Homo sapiens: one gene and its partners. The protein of the gene in region 3 interacts with the protein of the main gene of each other region in a biochemical or structural test. Each region holds a gene or a part of one and is shown on either strand. Other genes may lie near its edges.

What was found.
Region 1: the proteins of TMED10 (region 3) and COPB2 form a complex in vitro, tested with the Homo sapiens proteins (one study listed by BioGRID).
Region 2: the proteins of TMED10 (region 3) and COPG1 form a complex in vitro, tested with the Homo sapiens proteins (2 studies listed by BioGRID).

The regions. Positions count from the first base shown.
Region 1 is NC_000003.12:139,378,912-139,386,690, reverse strand, and holds part of COPB2 (coatomer subunit beta'), read left to right. Parts: intron 1-1,261; exon of another isoform or gene 1,262-1,687; intron 1,688-3,255; coding exon 3,256-3,393; intron 3,394-7,224; coding exon 7,225-7,311; intron 7,312-7,517; coding exon 7,518-7,644; intron 7,645-7,779. UniProt on the Homo sapiens protein: The coatomer is a cytosolic protein complex that binds to dilysine motifs and reversibly associates with Golgi non-clathrin-coated vesicles, which further mediate biosynthetic protein transport from the ER, via the Golgi up to the trans Golgi network.
Region 2 is NC_000003.12:129,266,563-129,274,341, forward strand, and holds part of COPG1 (coatomer subunit gamma-1), read left to right. Parts: intron 1-461; coding exon 462-537; intron 538-1,374; coding exon 1,375-1,478; intron 1,479-1,932; coding exon 1,933-2,058; intron 2,059-2,369; coding exon 2,370-2,438; intron 2,439-5,204; coding exon 5,205-5,347; intron 5,348-5,583; exon of another isoform or gene 5,584-5,681; coding exon 5,682-5,853; intron 5,854-6,244; coding exon 6,245-6,342; intron 6,343-7,779. UniProt on the Homo sapiens protein: The coatomer is a cytosolic protein complex that binds to dilysine motifs and reversibly associates with Golgi non-clathrin-coated vesicles, which further mediate biosynthetic protein transport from the ER, via the Golgi up to the trans Golgi network.
Region 3 is NC_000014.9:75,131,537-75,139,928, forward strand, and holds part of TMED10 (transmembrane emp24 domain-containing protein 10 precursor), read right to left. Parts: intron 4,351-8,392; coding exon 4,224-4,350; intron 3,471-4,223; coding exon 3,349-3,470; 3' UTR 1-3,348. UniProt on the Homo sapiens protein: Cargo receptor involved in protein vesicular trafficking and quality control in the endoplasmic reticulum (ER) and Golgi.

The DNA.
Region 1 (7,779 bases), on a different chromosome or scaffold from region 3:
CCTGCCTGGTACATAATAGACTCTTCATACCTGTTGACTCCATAGAGATTTAAAAAGAAGTTAAAATTTGTAATAGTAATTTATGGGGCAGAATTCAGAAATGAAGTAAAAAGCCTTGATTTTGGGAACTAGCAAGGAATGTTAAGATGATGATTTGAAAGTGGAAAATTGGAGCTGGGAGACCGAGGTGGGTGGATCACAAGGTCAGGAGAGGAGTTCGAGACCAGCCTGGCCAATATGGTGAAACCCTGTCTCTAAAAATACAAAAATTAGCTGGACATGGTGGCAGGCACCTGTAGTCCCCAGCTACTCGGGAGGCTGAGGCAGAATCCCTTGAACCTGGGAGGTGGAGGTTGCAGTGAGCCGAGATCACGCCACTGCCCTCCAGTCTGGGCGACAGAGCAAGACTCTGTCTCAAAAAAAAAAACAAGAAAGTAGAAAATTGGAGAGAGGAAGGGACTGATGACAGTGAAAACATTTTTGAGGAGATTGAAGAGAAGAGCCAGAGAACTCTGATCTTTTAAAGTAAGAGGTAAAGGTTGTTGCTGAAAATGAAGGAGGCGTGGGTAGAACAAGACTTGAAGTAGTCAATGACCCAAATTTGATAAAAATCCCCAAAAAAGATGAGTAAAAGCATTGTGAGGTGTTTTGTCTCAGGAAGTTGTCTCTGCTAGATCTTCTTTTTATATTCAAAAGTAACCTTAAATTTCTGTCCCATTCATGATCATCATAGAAGATCACAGCAATAAAGATTTGACAGTAACTCAACTTGCCAAATGAGCTTTTAGGTTGTGTTTAAGACCTGTTGAAGGGGAAATATATTTTAAATCAGTCTTTTCTCAGCATGCCTCCTAGAGAGAATTAAGCCCACTGCCCTAAGGATCATTGTATATATTGAATTAACTTTTCTCCTATAATGGCATTTTTTGGAGAATGGAGAAAATAGTTATTCAAATAATTATCTGTTCTGTAATTCAAAGGAAGAATTTGGCTTGAAAATGCTAGTATAAACTATTCATATTTTCTGACTTGAGAGAATGTTTTTATTTTTGTTTTAAATTTTTCCAATTTTCATTGTTTCTGTAATTTAAATCCATTAAAATATTTCAGACATTCCCATTTGATACCAAAGGCCATCATGCATAGGGATATAACCCTTATTGATCACACATTATGTTACCTAGCATTTACTAGTATTTTTGACAAGATAAATCTACCATTTTTCTCCAAAGAACTCAATATTATGCTTTATGGTTACTAGGACTTCATGAATAACACTTCTTCAGAATATTTCCTGATATGACACTATTGACCTGGGCACAAAATTGTGATTTGTGAATATTTAAAATTCATTGGCCGGGTGCGGGGGTTCACGCCTGTAATCCTAGCACTTTGGGAGGCCGAGGCGGGCGGATCACAAGGTCAGGAGATCGAAACCATCCTGGCTAACACGGTGAAACCCTGTCTCTACTGAAAATACAAAAAATTAGCTGGGCATGGTAGCATGCGCCTGTAGTCCCAGCTACTTGGGAGGCTGAGGCAGGAGAATCGCTTGAACCCGGGAAGCAGAGGTTTCAGTGAGCAGAGATCAGCGCCACTGCACTCCAGCCTGGACGACAGAGCGAGACTTCGCCACTGCACTCCAGCCTGGACGACAGAGCGAGACTTCGTCTCAAAAAGAAAAAAAGTAAATTTATTTACTAGATAATTCTATGAACTAGAGGTTCTCAAAATGTGGTCTGCGATTCCTTAAGAGTCCCTAAAACTCTTTCAGGAGGTCCACAAATTAAAATTATTTTCTTAACAGTGAGACGCTATTGGCACCTTTCACAATGTTGATATTTGCACTGATGGTGTAAAAGTAGTGGAAGGTAAAACTGCTAGTGAAGTGACACCAAATTGTACTGTTAGTATATTCTTCATTGTGACAGTTTTTTAAAAAGTCATTTTCACTTAAGAATGTCATTGATGAAACAGTAAAAATGTTATTACCTCTCCACACTTGAGTATGCATCTTTTAAATTCTGTGTGGTGAAATGGGGAGTATGCATAAAGCAGTTCTACTGCATACCGAAGTATCGTAGTTGTCTCAAGGGGAAACACTTGTAGCGTTTTTAAGTTGTGAGCTTTACTTGAAACAATGACTGAGAAACTCTGCTTATTCAGACTTGAATATTTGGTCGACATTTTTTAAAAACCTGAAAGAGGTTGGCTGGTCCCTGACAGTATTTCTTGCCAATGATAAAATTAAAGCTTTCAAGTGAAAGTTCGAATTTTGAAAAACTCACTGAACTTGATGGATTTCCAATGCTTAAAGGCTTATCAGTTGAAGTAGGTGGTGAAATTAGTGAATGTGTAATTTTTTTAATACAGTATCATGATGTTGTTAGCATCTAGAAGATGTGCATAATTCAGTGGACCAGCATTTTCCAAACGACCAATGCTTAATGGTAGAAAAACATGCATGAGAGAAAGATCCATTCAAAGTATGGACTTAACCAATGGATTTTAATGTAACGAAGTATAAACAGCTTATTGATACGGTTTCAGATTTTACCTTGCAAGTAGCCTTTAAGAAACTACCACTTCTCGAATTTCGAAGAATTTCAAGTAATGAAAAAACTATTAAGATACTCCTCACTTTCCAACTAGGTATCTGTGAGACCAGGCATTATTTTGTAGACATTAACCAAAACAACATATCACAACATATTGAAGGCAGAAGCAGATAATGAGAAACCATCTGTCTTCTGTTAAGTCAGATTATAAAGAGTTCTGCAAAAATGTAAAATATTGCCACTCTTTTCACTAAATTTTTTGAAAACATAGTTATTTTTCATAAAAACATGTTATTTTAATTAACATGTACTGGATTTATTTTTGTTATTTGAAAATGAATTAATATATAAATATTTTAAAGTTGTCTCAGGTTTAATTTTTAACATGGTAACATGCCAATAGCTAAAACTCACATAAACAAAAGCTCTTAGGGGTCCTCAAAGTGTTTAAGGACTATAAAGGAATCCTTAGAGCAAAAAGCTTGAAGACCACTGCTGTAAATCTTAAAATGTTGAATATTCTGATTTTTTTGATGTGTAAATGAAGAAATAAGTGCTTAGACTTGAAACTGTTTCAAAAGCTTAGCAAAGTAGTAGCTGAATTGTTTTGTAGGCCTATTCATGCACTTATTTAGTTAAAATCTCAAACATATTTTATTTGGCTTAGCAATTTAATTTTTTTAATGTTTCTTTTTAGCCTCTGCGACTTGATATCAAAAGAAAGCTAACTGCTAGATCTGATCGAGTTAAGAGTGTGGATCTGCATCCTACAGAGCCATGGATGTTGGCAAGTCTTTACAATGGCAGTGTGTGTGTTTGGAATCATGAAACACAGGTAGGAATTTTTCAGGACTGTATTAGAAATAAAATACTATGTGAGACTGTGTTTATAATGAAAGAGAAGAAATATTATAACAGAATCCAGAATCTATATGCAAACTGCTTTCTCAAGTTGGTACAAAGTATTTTAAATATGAAGGAACTAACATTTATGAGGGGATAGTTTGTAGGAGAAACTGTCCTGGGTATGTTATATACAATATTTAAATATAACAACTCTGACTTAGGTAGTATTAGCTCTTTTTTGAAATTGAGAAAACTGATGGTATTATAGAATCACTTGCTAAAGTATTTAATCGTTAGTTTTCCATTCAGTGAATACTCTATCTTAAGAATGATATCGTTAAATTTATTTTTCTCCCAGATGCCCAATATAATGATACACAGATAAATCTTTCACTCAGCCATATAGATTATATCAGGGAAATATTTATAGTCAGCTTTTGATTATACACACATCTTACAGATTGTCTGCCTGAATGCTTGACTCATTCTCTTTCACCTGAGTAAATAACATATCCTTCAAATTAGTTTGTCTCATATTTTCCAGTCTTCCTAGACTGTATTTAAGAGTACAAAGCATATAGTTAGCACTATACTATACAGTTGTGTCTACTTATATAGTAATTATCCTTAACGTCCAAAGTTAAGTTCTTGAAATCCAGGTAAAATTCGCATTTGAGGAATTTAAAATGGCAAAATGACATCAAGGAACCAAAGCCAGAAGTAAACCTAAAAACACCTTTATACTTTTATACTCACTGTAATGAAACAGAAATGACTGTACACTAAACTCATACCCTGTATTAGTCTGTTCTCACACTGCTGTAAAGAACTACCTGAGACTGGGTAATTTATGAAGGAAAGAGGTTTAATTGACTCACAGTTCCACAGGCTTAACAGGAAGCATGACTGGGAGGCCTCAGGAAACTTAAAATTTTGGCAGCAGGTGAAGGGGAAGCAAGCACCTTCTTCACATGATGGCAGGAGAGAGAGAGCAAAGTGGGAAGTGCCACACACTTTTAAACCATCAGATCTCATGAGAAGTCACTATCACGAGAACGGCAAGGGGGAAATCCACCCCCATGATCCAATCACCTCCCACCAGGGTCCTCCTCCAATTTGACATGAGATTTGGGTGGGGATACAAATCCAAACCATATCATAGTCCATCAGTGACATTTTATATAAATTAACATTTTGTTTTCTGCTGTATCTCAGTACCTATAACATTACCTGGCACATAGTAAATGCTCAATAATTATTTGTTCAACCAATGAATAATATGCATTTCACTTATCACTAGTTCAGTATTTGTGTTCTCTACAATTTCAGATCTTTATCTTGTGAATTGTTTTTGCTTTGATGCAAATAACTTTTTTTTTTTGCTTTTTGTTTAGTTCTTGAGATGTTTAAAATATTTCTGATTTTATGTTTAACAGATACGTTGGTGTCCTCTCTCTCTGATTATTCCTAGGGATTCCCTCTTATCAGCTACATTTACCTATCTCAGCTCTATCACTTGATCATCGTATGTTCTAAAGCCCAGGCGTACTTTTCTTATCTTTCTCTAGGCTTTATTGTAATATATCTCTGCTTTATCTGCATTTCCACTTTGCCTCCTTTTTCTCTTCTATACCTTTTTCTGCCCTATGACAGGACCATCTGCTTCCCCTTTCATAATTCATCTCAGTGGTAATTTCATGTTTAATTTCCTTCTTTCCTCTAAGAATGGAGGTTCTGTGAGGACAAGGATTACCCTCATCTTATTTCCCACTGTTGGTCCAGTGCATGAGGCACTACCTGATACACTGTCAGGCTCCTGGTAGATAGTAAGTCTTTGTTGAATGATTAATCTGTCTTTGATTCTCCCTGTTTTTTCCCTGTGTTTATATCACCAACAGCATTTACCACTCCTATATTGAGAGCAAATTCTTGAGAGAGCCAAAAAGGTTTTTGGAAGTAAAAAGGTTTTTAGATGTACTTGAATTTCAAATAAGGAGATGCTATATATTCTTTGAGGTGGTACATGCAGTGGTTTAAAAAACATAGTATTTTAGGATTTGAAGCCAACTTGCTGATTAAATTATATAGGCAAGCCTTTTAACCATGCTGAGCCTCTTTATTTATCTGAAGTGAAGATGATATTATTGCCTTGCCTACATCACAGGATTGTCAAAAAGATAAAATAAAATTAGATAAAATTGTGTATGAAACCTATAAAGTACCATATAAGTATTAGTCATTAGTTATACTTTCCTAATCTACGTTGAGTATTTGTATGTATTGTGTGTGTAGCTTTTCTTACTCTTTATTTGCATCAGTCATAGCCCCTAACATGGCGTTGAACCTTGGCTATTTCTTCTGCAGCTGCTTTATTTTTACTGCTCAGCAGATCCCTGGATTTGTTGGCTCCTCATGAGCTTTTGTGGATTTTTCTGCCGTGTTATAGATCGCATGTTGTGTCTACTCTCAGTTTCTGTATCATAGTCAGCTGGTAGTGATTCTACAGGTTAGAGTTGAAGTGCCTACTCATTCAGCCTTTGTCTAAAGAATCTTTGAACTCTGGCTTGAAAAGTCAGAGTAGGACAGTTCTTATGAACCGGTCCCTATTACTTTTTTAGTGCACATGGTTAATCAATCAGTAAGATTATATTGTGTTTCTTAGTTATTTCATTTTTGCTCTCTGATACAAAAAAGGATTAGAAAATGATAGTTTGACTTTCAGACTTTTAAGAACAGGCATCAAAGAAGGAGAACAAAGAGGTACCATGATCTCTGCTCTTTCTAGGAGGGTCTCTACCTTTATCCTATGTGTATAATTCCATTCTGAGCAGCTCGGAGGAACATATAAGTCACGGTGTTTTCATATTTTATTAAAAAGAAATAATAACATTTGTATGGAATCATATTGCTAAAGCATGCAAAAGAATTGTACCTTATTCATGAGTCACTTTTATGGGTTTCAATTTCAAAAAGACTGACTAGGTGCAGTGGCTCACGCCTGTAATCCCAGCACTTGGGAGGCTGAGACGGGTGGATCACTTGAGGCCAGGAGTTCGAGACTACCCTGGCCAACATGGTGAAACCCCGTCTGTACGAAAAATACAAAAATTTGCTTGGCATGGTGGTGCACACCTGTAATCCCAGCTACTTGGGTAACTGAAGCATGAGAATCACTTGAACCTGGGAGGCGGAGGTCGCAGTGAGCCAAGATTGTGCCACTGTACTGCACTTCAGCCTGGGTGACAGAGTAAGACTGTCTCAAAAAAAAAAAAAAAAAAAAAAAGAAAAGAAAAAAAGAAACTAAGAGCTAATTCATTCAACAAATATTTATTACACACTACTTGTGTGCCAGCCACTGTTCTATCCTCTGCCTATACAGTGTGAAAAATATTCCTGCCTTTGGAGAGCTTAGCAGGAAAGATTGGCACTAAACATAATTATGAGGTGCTACATTATGAAAGGGAAGTACAAGTTTCCATGGGTGGATTTTCAAGTCAGAGACAACAAGAGCAGAGGTGAGGCTGGGAGTAGCCAAAGGTGAGGCTGGAAAAGGGAGGGAAGGGCTGGAGCACAGAGGATCTGGAATACCATCTTGTGGATATTTGCCTTCTCTTATCTTTTAAAAAGTGTTTTAATTTCGAATCTATTAAAAGATAGTTGGTCTTTTTTAAAAATTTGAATGTTGAGCTTTTATATTTTAGCCTGAGAATATACTAAAATGAGAAGTGATCTTAAAAATTGGATGTTTGAAATATAACAGAGTAGATTTTGTGGTTATTTTCTTATAGCTCAATTTGTGTATTCTTGTTACATTTTAAAGACACTGGTGAAGACATTTGAAGTATGTGATCTTCCTGTTCGAGCTGCAAAGTTTGTTGCAAGGAAGAATTGGGTTGTGACAGGAGCGGTAAGTAATTAATATGAATCTCTATTCCCATTTTCTGAATTGGTCAATGATTGTGTAAATTTGTTGCAGGATTTTGATTCCCGATTTGTTTTGTTATTTACAGCAATGTTTTGAGGCATAGACTTTATTCCTTGAGCCTGTGATATAGTTTTTTTGTATAATTTACTTGATAACAGGGATGATGGTTTTAAAATTTCTGTTTCTAGGATGACATGCAGATTAGAGTGTTCAATTACAATACTCTGGAGAGAGTTCATATGTTTGAAGCACACTCAGACTACATTCGCTGTATTGCTGTTCATCCAACCCAGCCTTTCATTCTAACTAGCAGTGGTAAGAGATGACCTTTTTTGGTCATGTGCGTCTCTTTGGGTAATTCATTTTCATTCACTGAGACATGCTATGCTTTAACTGCTGTTACAAATATAATTCTAATTCCAAGCGGCCTTTAAACTATTTAGATCCATT
Region 2 (7,779 bases), on a different chromosome or scaffold from region 3:
CTTTATTTTTAATTTCTTTTCATGCCCCCACTGGACAGATTTTCTTCTTTCAGCAATAAATGATCTTTAAGTAATTGTTCCCTTTCTCATTTTTATTATTCTGAGCCTTAACTGCAAATTGACGCCATTTGGATATGGAAGGTGAGGAGCTTTACATTATAGCCAGCTTCTGTGACCTCATCATGGTTAATTTGAAATTAGCTCCTGGAACCTTAGAATGGGAGCTACTAATCCCATCTGGCGCCCTTCTCCATTAAATAGATAAGGAAGTTGAGGCCTGGGATGGTGCCAAGATCCACCCAAAGCCACTCACTCTGTTGGTAGTGACTTTGGGCCTCCTGGCTTGAGACTTCTTGCCTCTGGGGCTCTTCTGCCTGAAGACCCATTCTGAGTGCTGGAAGTGCCCAAACAGTGAGTTGTCAGGGTGCATTGGGTAAATCACATTCGCTTCCTAAACACAGGTGCTGTGAGTGCTCTGGCGAAGTTTGGAGCCCAGAATGAAGAGATGTTACCCAGTATCTTGGTGTTGCTGAAGAGGTGAGTCTAGGCCCAGGGGCCCTAATGGGGACAGTGTTCCCTTGGACCCAAGCAGCTTTCCTTTGTCTTTATTTTTTTTTAACTGAAAAGGGAGAGAAAAGTTATACAGCTACTGATTGTAGAAAAAAAAGAGAAAGCATAGAAAAGCATGAAAAACAATGCTGTGCAAATTGCACCAACCAGATGTGACAATTGGTAACTTGAATTATTTTGTCCATTTTTTAAAAATAGCTCTATTGAAGCCGGGCATAGTGGCTCCCGCCTGTAATCCCAGCACTTTGGGAGGCCAAGGCGGGCGGATCACAAGGTCAGGAGATTGAGACCGTCCTGGCTAACACGCTGAAACCCCGTCTCTACTACAAATATAAAAAATTAGCCAGGTGTGGTGGCGGGTGCCTGTAGTCCCAGCTACTTGGGAGGCTGAGGCAGGAGAATGGTGTGAACCTGGGAGATGGAGCTTGCAGTGAGCCGAGATCATGCCCCGCATTCCAGCCTGGGTGACAGAGCGAGACTCCAGCTCAAAAAAAAAATAGCTCTATTGAGATATAATTCACATACCATACAATTTACCCATTTAAGATGTGTAGTTTGATGGGTTTTAGCATATTCACAGAGTGATGGAACCATCACCACAACCTGAGTTTAAAACATTTCATCACCCCAAAGGGAACTCAGTGTTCATGAGTGTGGCCTCTCCTCACTCCCTCCACCCTCCGCCTGGGGCCACCACTAGTCTACTTGTTATCCCTATGGACTTACCTCTAATGAAGCCATGCAGGATCCCTCCTGCCATCCCTGCTGGGTCCCAGTCAGGACCACCTTGTGTCCTGGCTGCAGGTGTGTGATGGATGATGACAATGAAGTAAGGGACCGAGCCACCTTCTACCTAAATGTCCTGGAGCAGAAGCAGAAGGCCCTTAATGCAGGCTATATCCTAAATGGTGAGTCATTCCCTGGCTATCTTGGACTCAGCACCTTACTGGAGCTGTGGTTCTCATCACTCCCTGGGCAGGGGAAATCAGAGGCAAGATGCTCTTGGCTGGACTTGCCTGGCAACCTCATGGCATCATGGTGACCTCAGGAGGTCCCGGGTCATTCAGGTCACACCTGAATTGGGTGGAAATTGTCCAGTGAATTGAAACGCTCATCATTAATAAAAACTTTATTTTTACAGTACTTTACCCTTTACAAGTCACTTTGTATATATGTTTATTCCCCACACCTACCCTGTAAGGGAGGATGTGTCTGAGAATGCAGAGGCTTAGAGAATAAAGTGATTTTCTCAGGGTCATACTACTTAGGACTTGTAACTTCGGGACCCCAGGGCCTCCATGGTGGTCCCTGGTGCACATTTTGCTCTATCTGCCAGGCATGGTGACCTCTCTTCACCTCCAGGTCTGACTGTGTCCATCCCTGGTCTGGAGAGGGCTCTGCAGCAGTACACTCTAGAACCATCAGAAAAACCTTTTGACCTCAAGTCTGTGCCCCTGGCCACGGCGCCCATGGCAGAGCAGAGAACAGGTAACACTTATACTCCTCCCAGAGGCCATCAAGGCCAGGCCTCTGTTGGAGGGTCTGCATTGGCTGCAAAGCCACTAACCTAACTAGGGTGGGTGGCAGTTATGCTGGGAGGAGGAAATGATCTTTTCCACCTCTGGCTCCAGAAAATAGAGACACACATACACACAGACGTGGGCTCTCTCACATGTCTTCTGCTTCCCACTCTCAGGAGGGTTAGTATTTATAATCCCTGAGTAATAGCACTGGGGTCACCACCACACTGCCCCGTGACTCCAGCTGTTGGTCATCACGTGTATAATTTGCTCCTGCAGAAAGTACCCCCATCACAGCAGTCAAACAGCCTGAGAAAGTGGCAGCTACCAGGCAGGAGATCTTCCAGGGTGAGTCACAGTGGTTGGGGGATGCTTGGGACCTGGGCTTAGTTTCCTCAGGGGGTTCAAGAGTAAGAACTGTCATATATTGGTCTCTCCTGAGTGCTAGGCCCTTGAGATGCTTTAGACCTACTATCACATTTGACCCTCAGGTGGTGGTTGTTGGGTTCCTTCAATATCTGAGGAATTGGAAGTTCAGAGAGAGAAAGTAGTAGGAGGGGCTGGAATTAAGGTCCCGATCAAACTGGCTCAGTGCTGTTACTGGGCCTCAATTTGGAGGGCTCGGGTCCCTGGAGCCCAGGCCAGTTCAGAATGTCTGAGAGAGCAGTGCTGGGATTCAAAGACACTGGTACTTTTTGTCGGGTTCCACGTGTGTTCTGTCCACATTGTCTTGTAAGGTTTTCTTCAGGTATCCATCTGTCCTCTGGTGTTGCATTTTTAAGGGGAGAGGCTGTGTGTCTAATTGCAGATTGTTTTATCCACTGAATTCAGTAGATAAAAGCATAGACCCCTCTTCCTTCATGGGCCCTCACTTCCATCCTAGCTCTTCTGTCTTCTCTTAAACAGCCCTCTGTGCTAAATAGTTCTTCACATGTTCTGTCTTTTATTTTCTGCGTCTATCACAGCACTGAGCCCAGTGCCTTCCTTCCTCACAGTAGGCTCCCAATTAATGTTGAATTAAATGAAATCCCCCCTTCCCCATTACACTCAGAATCATGTCTTATATCAATATAGCATGGATCCTGAGCTAATTGGGATCGCTATAACATGAAACTTTCCATTTATATCAGTTTTCTATTGCTGCTGTAACACGTTACCACAAACTTAGTGGCTTAACACATTTATAACCTTATAGCTCTGCGGTCAGAAGTCCAAAGTGGGTTTCATTTGTTAGCAGTGCTGAGTTCTTTCAGGAGGCTCCAGGTATTGCCCCCTTGCCTTTTCCAGCTACTAGAGGTGGCCCGTATCCTTGGCTCGTGGCCCCTTCCACCGTCTTTAAGGGCCCTTCTAGGGCAGAAGGTCAGAGTAGAGTGATTTGAAGAGGCCACACTCCTGGCCTTTTCAAATCTCTCTACTCTGACCTTCTGCCCTAGAAGGGCCCTTATGATTACACTGGCCCCCCCTGGATAATCCAGGATAACCCCTAGCTCAAGATCCTTAATTTAATCACATCTACAAAGTCCCTTTTACCATGCAAGGTAACATAGCTGCAGGTTCTGGGAATTAGCATGTGGGCATCTTGGAGTCATTATTCTGCCACACCTTCCAAGGAAGTCTCCTAAGCCGCTTAAAGGGTAACAATTCCATTTTTAAACAATCATCCAAAAGCCTCACATTTACTAATCACATACATGTTCAGTTCCAAGAACTTTCCTAGATCTTGAATTTATTGCCTCATTTGTCTTTACAACAACGCTGTGATCAAGATAATGATATCAGTTTTATTGATGAAGAGTCTGAAACCCTACCAACAGAATCCCCCAGGGAGTAAGTATCAGGCCCAAAACTCTGAGTCCCAAGAAAATAAATATCAATAGAAAAGCACTCTAGTGGTTGATGGTCATGGTGGCCCAAAAGTTCCTCCTAATATCTAGCCTGGATTGTTCTGGGCTTTTTATTGCCTGCATATTCATTAGATTCAGTCTTCAGGCTGCAGAGGGCTGAAGTGGTCACATAGGCTGACTTTTTGTGGAGGAAAAAAGCAAAATAATAAAAATAAGGCCTACCTTTCTCTATGTCTGAAACGTGAATTGAGTACCTTCTAAGTAAAGGGAAAAATATCAGATCCATGGCCTCAAAGCACAATCCCTGTTCTCATGGAGTTCAATTAATTGGGAAGACAAGTTGAAAATCTTAGAGCAGTGGTCTTTAAATATCAGTATATATTGGAATAATCTGAGGAAACATGTTAGAAATGCAAATTCCTTGATCCTGAAACCAGAGATTCTGATGTAGTAGATTTGGGATGGAGTCTGAGTTTTTAGCAAGCTCTGCCGCCAACCCCTAGTAATTCTGATACAGTTGATCCATGGTCATAGTGCGAGGAATCCTGCCATAGAATAGGTACAAGAGTGGCAGCTGTAGCCATTATAGGTGGACACCATGTGCACACATCTGCCAGATGCCTCATTCACTTGGGTTATTCCCTTTAGTTTGCAAGGAATGCCAGGACCAGCCAGGGTGGGGTCCCATGGGCCTGTGCTTGAATCCAGTGCTTGAACCTGGGCATAGGGTGTAGGGATAGGTCTTACCAGACACAAACAATTCTAAGTTAGGTTTTCTGCAACACTCTCATTCTGAAATATCTCTTTATTGGCCATTTGTCTTAACTGATAAATATATAGGACCAGTTTGTTATTTTGTCTGATTTTGTAGCTATAGCAGTATCGATCTTATTTTCCTAATTGTCACCTTCTTTTAAGAATCCTTGCTGCGGTAGGGGGCGGAAATCCTTGCTAAGCTTCTATAGCTGGGGGATTCTCCAATTAGGTCTAGGATTTTGTGGTCTCATATCAGTTTTTTGCTTCTGAGGTCTTTCATGGTACAGAGATGGGGAGAGTATTTGTGGGGGGTTGTGCCACATGAGCGAAGTCAGGGAGATGAGAAAATGCATGGATATATTCAGGAAATAATGAGTAGCCAGTTGGGTAAACATATCTATCCATCTAAGGTAGGGTGGAACACCTTGAGAATGGTCATGGGAATTTATTAGAAACCATCAACAAGTTGGTCTGGGGATCGAGAAGCTGAGTGAATGTGGCCTGTGGATTTCAGAGCAGTTGGCAGCAGTGCCAGAGTTCCGCGGTCTTGGGCCCCTCTTCAAGTCCTCGCCTGAGCCCGTGGCCCTCACCGAGTCAGAGACGGAGTATGTCATCCGCTGCACCAAACACACCTTCACCAACCACATGGTTTTTCAGGTGAGCAAGGTGGGCTGAGGCCCTGCTGGGGCATGCGCCCAGGGAGTTGTCCCAGGTCTGGCAGGTCCTGTAGGGTCATGGGTCCCCACACTGCATTGGTTGGGAGCCCAACTTGATGACAGAATCTGTCCCCAACAGGTCGGTCTCTCATATCTCTTGACTCGGGACATCCATGGCTCCCGATTGTCAGCATGAAGACAGGGAACCTGGGGCAGGGGGACTGGGATGGGAATCACCTTGGTCAATAGGAAAGAGGTGGGACCTCCTGGCTTTTCCTCTGCAGCATGGCTCGGACCTAGTGCAATGTTTAAGCTCCCCTCTCTTTCCTGTTCAGTTTGACTGCACAAACACACTCAATGACCAGACCTTGGAGAATGTCACAGTGCAGATGGAGCCCACTGAGGCCTATGAGGTGCTCTGTTACGTGCCTGCCCGGAGCCTGCCCTACAACCAGCCCGGGACCTGCTACACACTGGTGGCACTGCCCAAAGAAGACCCCACAGCTGGTGAGCCCCTCTCCAGATACCACCCTATCCTCCTGGGAGCTCATGGGGTCAGGAGGAGGTGGGCGGCTGGGCACCAGCTGTTTGCCTTCTATTAGAGCTTCAGCTCCTTGATTTCAGTCCCAAGAAGAAGAATAGCTGAGTCCCAAGTGCTCTTCTTTAAAAATTTTTTTTTTTAAAGAGACAGGATCTCACTAGAACTCATGACTTTCCTGTCCTACAAGGTGGCACCCTCTGTCCAGCTTTGTGGGATTGGATGGCTTGTTGCTGCTACTAATAACATAGCAGGGGCCTAGAAAGCAGGCTGTGACCCCTGCCTGCTTGTCCCCTGCAGGAGGAGCCCATCCCCTGCAGGCTGGGGACATCCTAACTACCCAGCCTCTCTTCCCCACAGTGGCCTGCACATTCAGCTGCATGATGAAGTTCACTGTCAAGGACTGTGATCCCACCACTGGGGAGACTGATGACGAAGGCTATGAGGATGAGTATGTGGTAAGATCCTGGTGTCAGGAAGCTCAGTTTTGTGCTGAGGCTGCAAAGCAACTCCCTTCAGGAACTGACAGTGAGACTGGAGCTGTTTTTGGCTTTTTAGCTCTTTAAAATTTTATTTTTTTATTTTTATTTTTTGAGATGAAGTTTCTCTTTTGTTACCCAGGCTGGAGTGCAGTGGCGCGATCTCGGCTCACTGCAACCTCTGTCTCCCTGGTCCAAGCGATTCTCTTGCCTCAGCCTCCCAAGTAGCTGGGATTACAGGCGCCCACCACCATGCCTGCCAAATTTTTTGTATTTTTGGTAGAGATAGGGTTTCACCATGTTGGCTAGGCTGGTCGCGATCTCCTCACCTCAGGTGATCCACCTACCTTGGCCTCCCAAAGTGTTGGGATTACAGGCGTGAGCCACCGCGCCCGGCCTAAAATAACTTTTTAAACTTATGGAAATACATGTTCATGTGTAAAAAGAAAACTTGGGAAATACAAAAACAAAATTCAAAACAAAGTATGAACAACAGGAAAACATTACTCATAATCCTTAGAGTTATTTTTGGGGGGAAGTGGTATAATTGAAATCATTCTTACAGTGTAGACCTTGCTATTTTAAAACCATAGTGTATTTTCCAGTATCATTACAAATACTTCATAAACACAATTTTTTTAGTGGATTTAAAATACTGTTATATACTATGTCAAAACTTGATTGACTTTTCACTCCTTTAATGTTGGGCATTTGGGTTTCCATATTTTCACTATTTATATTGCTGCATTAAATATCCCTTTAGATACAAATTTTTATCTGCATTTTAGATTATTTCTTTAGGATAGATTCCTAGAAGGAGAATAGTTGGGTCAAAGGGTAAGCATGATTTTAAGACATTTTGATTCCTCTTGTCAAATGCTTTCTGGATAAATTTGACCTGTTTGCTGTGCTGGGCAGTCCTTTCATGCACTGGAATAGCCCTTCTAAATTCTCCTATCTTAGCTCGGTGGAACTAAGTACAGGATCCTTCTGAGGTCTGACTTTGGGGCAGTGGCTCAGGGCCATCTGAGTGCAGACCATTATGCTCAGCCTGTGGATGGGGACTGTTAGAACTCCTCCTGACTAGAGGGACAGTCACAGTGGAATACAACTGACATTCGCCATTGTGTCATCCTAGAGTCACAGTTGAGGATGGATGGACCTTCCTTGAGCTGGAAATGACCCCGAGGCAGGAGCTGCTCTAAGACCAAGTGAGCTCCTTGAGAGAGCTGGGTCTGTTTGAGCCCATCCAGAGATGAAGAAAAAAAAAAAAGAGAGAGAGAGCTGGGTCTAAGTTGTATTTATATACACTGTAAACATCCACAGGAGTAGGGCCTCAGTGAAAATCTGATGGGAGAATGAATGGGGAACCTTCATGTAGACTCAGTGGGAGTATTATGTGTCAAGTTCAGGGAA
Region 3 (8,392 bases):
CTGTATAAATCCCATATGCCTCTTTCCCAAACAAACCAAGAAATGGCTTTATGACAGGGGTCCATGACAATGGTATAACAAGGCTTACTTAAACTGCATCATTCTCATTTATATTATACAGACCATTTTGGATAATATGCTCAAAAATGGAGGAAAGCACATAACACCCGATTTTAAAGCTTATTTGCTCTTGTGTCAGTCTTTTGTCAAAGGCAAATACATTTACTTTTTAGATAAAACCAAAGTATAATATCAATTAACTTTTAAACCAAAAGCACAAAATGTCCCAGTTGATAGTTTCGGCATGAGTAAAGGGAAGGGACATGAAAGAATGTCAACTCCTACAAAGCTTAAGTTTAGGGTCACACTTGGGAACAAAAGCATCAACGAAATAAAATATTCTCTTCTCCTATCTTCTTGACATTTTGTCACATCACAAGAACATAACTAAGAGAGTAGCTTTCGTTGCTCCTAAAAAGGGGAAAGGCACCAGTCAGAAATAGGAAAGAAAATCTTGTTAGGCTAACGGTACATGATAGAAATTTCACATTTAAAAGTTTAAAGATGGAGGCTGGGTGTGGTGGCTCACGCGTGTAATCCCAGCACTTTGGGAGGCTGAGGCAGGCAGATCACTTGAGGTCAGGAGTTCGAGACCAACCTGGCCAATATGGTGAAACTCTGCTTCTACTGAAAATACAAAAATTAGCCAGGCATGGTGGTGTGCACCTATATTCCCAGCTACTCAGGAGGCTGAGGCAGGAGAATTGCTTGAACCCAGGAGGTGAAGGTTGCAGCGAGCTGAGATAGTGCCATTGCACTCCAGCCTGGGCGTTGCAGCAAGACTCCGTCCCCCCCCCCCCAAAAAAAAAAAAGTTTAAGGATGTATCTTAACCCACATATTATTTTCTCTACTTGGATGCATCCTCTGTAACTTAGTATATGTAATACTACAGATAGACTTTCTCAACATTTGCTGCCTATGCTAAGGATCTGCAGCCAGGTTCTCAGAAGCAGTACCTACCAATTCTCAACAGCAGATGGCAATGTTGTACAAGTTAACGACAGAACTACTTTTATGCCACAGGAGAGGAAGACACAAGGAGTCAAAAGGGGGAAAAAAAAAGTTTGGGTTCATAGTAGCAGGAACATTAACAGAATAGCCTGAGATTTTAACAGCATAACTCATTCCCTCTTCCACCTTTGTACTTTATCCAGGTCAACACATCAGGGTTCTCTAACGATTCCAGTATTCTGTTTCTTTACTGTAAGATACATGTAATTCTTGCCACTGTGATTAAACAAGCCCTGTAATAGTCAGCAGGGTTAAAAAGAGATTACGGAAAGGATAAACTCCTACCTACTTTCTTGGGAGATGTGGGAAAGATTTCAAGTCACAGCATTTTTCATAACTGTTTATAAACAATGGTCATTTATATCCACACTTTCTCTTATTTACATTAGTTTTGGCCCTTAGGCAACTCATACTCCTACAGTGATTATTGGCTTTGCTTTCATAACATGTATTTTTAAGTATTTACTCTCTTAATGGCCCTCGATGTCTATTTTATACATCATATCTCTTAATTCTCTAGATGGAACACTGAAGGACAGGAATTAAGTAAGTGACTGGCCATGCAAGGGTTGGAAATTTTACTTATTTTTCCTTGGTAGAAGTTATGTTAAAAATTCAAGCAACCACATATCTAACAGAGGAATTTTATCTAGGATATATAAAAAACCTCTCAAAACTCAATAGTAAAAAGAACAAATGACCTAAATAGAAAATAGACAAAAGACATGAAGACATTTCACCGAAGAGGATACATAGATGGCAAATTAGCACACAAAAAGATACTCAACATCATTAGCCATTGGAAATGCAAATTAAAACCACATGTGGTATCATTACACACATCTATGTGAATGGTTAAGATAAAAAATAGTAGTAATACCAAATGCTGGTGAGGATGTGAAGAAACTGGATCAATCATACATTGCTGTCTGAATTGTATGAGTGGCTGTATGTAAAAAGTAGAGCCACTCTGGAAAAAGAGTAGGGTAGTTTCTTACAAAAATATATGTGTTTACCATACAACCCAACAGTTGCCCTTTTGAGCATTTATCCCAGAAAATGAAAATGTATGTTCACATAAAAACCTGTACATGAATGTTCACAGCAGCTTTATTAGGGCAAAAAACTGAAAACAACTCTTATGTCCTTTAGTGGGTGAATGGTTAAGCAAACTGTGGTACATCCATACCATGGAATACTACTCAGCAATCAAAAGGAACTGCCCCCACTTCACCACGATGCAATATATGCATGTAAGAAATCTGTACTTATACCCCCTAAATATATAAAACATTTTTAAAAGAAAAAAAGGAAGAAACTATTCATACATGCAACAACTTGGATGGATTTCAAGGGAATTATGCTGAATGAAAAAAGATCAGCCTCGTAAGATTACATTCTGTATGATTCCATTCATACAACATTCTTGAAATGACAAAATTACAGAGATGGAGGACAGAACAGTGGTAGCCACAGGTTGGGGTGAGGGTATAAGAAAGGGATGTGGCTGCGGCTGTAAAAGGGCAGTGCAAGGGATCCATGTGACAGAACTGTTCTGTCTCTTGTGATGGTGGTCACATGAATCTACACATGTGATAATATTGCATAGAATTAAATACACATACACGAAAAAAGTTCAAGCAGTTGAGCACAAATATTTTAATTGTCTAAAATGACATTTTCTTTAAGAGTTATCTACAGTTCAAAGCTCACTTTTATGAGGTGTCACATCCATCACCATTTTAAGAGATATAAAATCATGAAAAGATATCACCAGAAGCTATGTAAACATTTCAGCTAAGGGTAAAGAGAAAGTTAAGGGTGTTTTCACAAGGAAATTGAAAGAGGGCAATCCAAATGAAGTCAACATGGTCACACAAAAATCTTGGTAAAAGAACTAGAATGGAAGCCCAAGCTGCTGAGCAAGTGGGAGAAGAAAAGAAAACATAGTCCAAACAGATCACACAAGGGAACCCAGGACAAATGCTGACTTTGGCATTATCTAGGTAACCCCTATTTTTTGTCATAGGTGACTCTAATAATAGACCTATTGTTGCAAAACCAGTCAAAATCCTACCAAATTAAAAAGAAGTCCCTCATTGACTTGTTGGGTGTAGGTGGTACCCCATGTCCTCCCACACCAAAAGAGATCAGTTCTGGCAAGAAAGCTCCAACGTGCCTTGATGGTGCTGTTGGTAGGATGCCTTAGGCCAGGCACGTCCCAGCGATGTTCTGCTGGCTGAGGTACAAGGTGGGAGGAGAATATGCCTCATTCATTACTCAATCAATTTCTTGGCCTTGAAGAAGCGTCGCAGGTAGAAGACCTGCCAGGTAGCTAGTCCAATGAGACAGAACATTGAAAAGATGCTGAAGTATAGGACCCGAGTGTTTGTTGACTCTAAAAAAAAACAAAAGCATTGTAAACATAATGAAGTGAGCCTCCTCAGCTGGCTAAACAATGGCAGGGGAGGTGGGTAAAGGCAATTAATTAACTTCACTCTGTCCCTAGGTCTAACAGTAGGATTTCAGATAATTTTTCTTTTTAAGTTCATTATCCTGGCTGGGCATGGTGTAATCCCAGCCTGTAATCCCAGCACTCTGGGAGGCTGAGGCAGGCAGATCATGAAGTCAGGAGATCGAGACCATCCTGGCTAACTCTGTCTCTATTAAAAATACGAAAAATTAGCCAGGCATGGTGGCTTGTGCCTATAGTCCCAGCTACTTGGGAGGCTGAGGCAGGAGAATTGCTTGAACCCAGGAGGCGGAGGTTGCAGTGAGCCGAGATCGCACCACCGTACTCCAGCCTGAGCGACAGAGCGAGACTCCATCTCAAAAATAAGTAAATAAATAAAAATAAAAGTTCATTATCCTATATATAAATGTTGAAAATTACAAAGATTGGTGCTATCAGTTTGATGTGGGTATAGACTAATTGAGGATGTTGTCACCTGCCTATCACAGTAGGAGTTTCTACTCTCTTGAAAATCTAACAAGGCTCATTTACCTTTAGCAGCAACAACAGCGAAGCAAGCAATTTCCCCTCCATATACCCACCTTGGCAAAACTGAGAAAAGGGTACACCAGAATTGAAAGTTTGGAGACTGTCTCATTTATGGGTCACTTAAGAAGTAAGAGTCGCCTTCCCCCTCACCGTTGGTATCACGCATCTCCTCTTCTCTCTTCTTCATGTAGGCAAAATCATTAACAATAGATTCTGAAAGGTCTTCTAGGCGTCGCAGCTCTACCTCTAATGGTTTGAGCTTCTCAACTTTTGCAATCTGGAAAAGAATGGAATATTTTCAGCTCTCTGAAAACATCGCTTCAGTCAAGAACATAAAGAAGGCAACAGAGAAGTCTTTTTTAAAGTTTCACCAGATTTAAATTCTCTCCTATCAATCATCCTAACATATTTTAAAATTTGGGCTTCTTTCTTTCCCTATAGACTATATCTTTCCATTTCAGACCTTTTTTGATACTTTAATTTTGACTAAAATCTTAGAAGTAATATAATAACCGTAGGCTATAAAGTAAGATATACTATTGTCTCAAGATTTTTTACTTTTTTTTTGAGACAGGGTTTTACTCTGTTGCCCAGGCTGGAGTGCAGTGGCACAGTCTTGGCTCACTGCAGGCTCGACCTCCTGGGCTCAGGCAATCCTCTTGCCTCAGCATCCCAAGTAGCTGGGACCACAGTCATGCACTGCCACACCCAGCTAATTTTTATACTTTTTCTAGAGATGGGGTTTTGCCATGTTGCCCAGGCTGGTCTCGAACTCCTAAGCTCAAGCAATCTGTCCGCCTTGGCCTCCCAAAGTGTTGGGACTACAAGTGTGAGCCACCATGCCCAGCTGATTTTTGACTTTAGTAAAGCACTTTACTTTGCACTTCCACTCATGTCTAAGAAGTAAACTATTGTTAATACAATAAATGTGGGAGTCATATTAAGTCAAACCTGGTTTTAGAAGAAAAACCACTAAATTCATTAAACCTTTGACAGTACATAGGAATGTGAGCATGTGTTGTTATAGCATTAAAGTAATAATTCAAAATACACAATTAGAGAATTCTGGTTCATATAAATCCTACAACAACTTTAAGGTTTAATATCAGAGCTCAGATGTGAGAAAACTGCACTGAATTTTTTATGTATTTTTTTCTTTTAGAATGACACAGCCAGTTATCAAAAGAAATCTTCAAGGAATTCCCTGTATGCTGAGGAATGAAGGATGTGAGAAAGAAATTAACTGTCTTCTGCTCTCAAGTTAGACCCCTAAGAAAACTCTTAAGAGTATCTAATAACTAGAGGCATCTGTCACACCAGCAAAGATGTCATTATTGTTTTTTTCTTATCAGTCTTAGATTATGCTTTGCTTTAAAATGAGATACACCACCAGAGCTTTCCAGATCTTTTTTTTTTTTTTTGGAGATGGAGTCTCACTCTTGCCAGGCTAGAGTGCAGTGGTGTGGTTTTGGCTCACTGCAACCTCTGCCTCCTGGGTTCAAGTGATTCTCCTGCCTCAGCCTCCTAAGTAGCTGGGACTACAGGCGTGCGCCACCACACCCAGCTAATTTTTTGTATTTTTAGTCGAGATGGGGTTTCACCATGTTGGTCAGGATGGTCTCGATCTCTTGACCTCGTGATCCACCTGCCTCGGCCTCCCAAAGTGCTGAGATTACAGGCGTGATCCACCATGCCCGGCCAGCTTTCCAGATCTTAAAACTTTTACATACCAGTTGCTCTTAAAGTTTCCACATAGAGAATTCTTTAATAATTCTGTTTCTGGCCGGGTGTGGTGGCTCACACCTGTAATCCCAGCACTTTGGGAGGCCGAGGTGGGTGGAACACGAGGTCAGGAGATCGAGACCATCCTGGCTAACACGGTGAAACCCCGTCTCTACTAAAAATAAAAAAAAAAAATAGCTGGGCGTGGTGGCGGGCGCCTGTAGTCCCAGCTACTCGGGAGGCTGCGGCAGGAGAATGGCGTGAACCCAGGAGGCGGAGCTTGCAGTGAGTTGAGATTGTGCCACTGCACTCCAGGATGGGTGACAGAGCGAGACTCCATCTCAAAAAAAAAAAAAAAAATTCTGTTTCTTTCTTTCTTTTTTTTTTTTTTTTAAGGATGGAGTCTCACTCTGTTGCCCAGGCTGGAGTACAGTGGTATGATCTTGGCTCACTGCAACCTCTGCCTCCCAGGTTCAAAAAAATCCTCCCACCTCAGCCTCCTGAGTAGCTGGGATTACAGGTGTGTGCCACCCCACCCAGCTAATTTTTATATGTTCAGTAGAGATGAGATTTCACCACGTTGGCCAGGCTGGTCTTGAACTCCTAACCTCAGGTGATCCATCCACCTCGACCTCCCAAAGTGCTGGGATTACAGGCGTGAGCCACTGCACCTGGCCTTAATAATTCTGTTTATATATCTGCTTCTTTACTCCCTATTTACTGTACATTCCCTATGGCCCACTTTTTTTTCTCTCCTTTGTTCAATTCATTGTCCTTGTCCTTTTCTTTGTGAAATGTTAACAGCAGTTAACAAGGGATGAATAGGAGGCATTTATTTTATGTTTTCTTATTATATTCTTCACTAAATGTGTGATGAACAAAAGTTATTTAAAATAAAACAAACTGCTGTTAAAATTGGGATGTAAAAATTGAGTTTATATTTAAGGTCCATAAAAATATGGTGATAGACTTGCGATGATACACCTACAGTTTTCTCTCACCAGAAGCACATTTTCTTGCGTTTGTAAAATGTTGGCTAGAGTTAACGGTGTGACTGGTAACTGCAGAACAGCTTCTGGGTGTAAGATTTAACCAATAGTTAATGCACAGAGCTAACTTTCCTAAGTGAATGGCCAAATGCCAGGTTTTGTCATTAACCCAGAATATATATCTGTTCATTGATCTCATATAGAGCTGCAGAACAAAAAAAAATTCCTCAAGAAAAATACAGGAGCTATACAAGCTGAACCTTAGTCTAACATCTTCCCTCCTGCTCTATACTTCCCCACTCAGAGCTTCCTAAATGAGACAGTATAAAGGAAATGGCATGATACTTCTTAGAGATAAATTATTTAAAGTTCCCTAAATAGAAACTTGCAAAAGAAACTGGAAGTGAAACTATGGCTGTGCCTCTGCCAGCTGAAAATGATATTAAAAAAAAAATTACTTTAAAGCCTACTGAATCCCACAGCCTTTGCTTCTTTTTTTTTTTTTTTTTTTTATTTTTGTTGTTGTTGTTGTTAAAGGACAATAGTCCAGAGACCTAAAACCCGAAAAACAATGATGGAATTAAACCTGGTACTGAAGATGGCTTTTGTAGATTACAGCCCCCCACAAGCTGTTCCCAATCCCTTTCCAGTAATAAAACTTATTTTTTAGTTGTACAACCAACACATAAATATATTCTTTGGCTAAAAATTTAAACTATCCAGAAGCAAAGAGAATATAAACCAAAAGTCTACCTTCATGGTTCCTCAATTCCCACATTGCTTTCCAGAGGTAAAGATGCTTATAAACTTGATGTATTATCTTTCCACACCTTTTCTTCTGAGACACTATGCTTTTGTATGTAAATGTACACAGAAAAATATAACTTAAAATCTATTTATAAATGGCATACTACACACATTGTTCTATAGCTTTTTTCCATTTAGTAAGATCTTTCCAAAAATGTCAGTGCTTATCAATTCATCTTATTCTTAACTGCTGCACAGCATTCCACACAGCTAGTATTCCACATTGTTTAGTTAATCATTCAATTCCCAACCCCTTTTCTAGTACAGGTGCTACTTCAGACTCTACACCTCTATTCATAACCAAACAGTCAAATTCCTATCTTCAAAGTTGATTTTATTTCCTCAACAAAATCTCTGCTGAGGCCAAGCGTGGTGGCTCACACCTGTTATCCCAATACTTCGAGAGGCTGAGGCAGGAGGATCACTTGAGCCTGGGAGGTCAAGGCTGCAGTGAGCCAAGATCATGCCACTATACTCCATCCTGGGAGACAAACTGAGACTCCGACTCAAAAAAAAAAAAAAAAAATCTATTGAATCCCATCTTTCATCCAGAAAATTATTTTCAGACCTTCATTAGTGGGATGAAGGTCTCATTTTGGTCTCATTTCCTAGAAGCCATTTTTGCCTAATAAGTACCTTCACTCATGATACTAATTTAAAATCTAGAAATCTTAAAGAAATCTCAAGAGACTAAAACAGTACTGAAATCTAGCTTGCCATTCCAAACACCTAGTACACCATGGATACTCAATAGTAAAAAACAACAATCATGGATATATTTCTATGTTGAATCTAAACCTA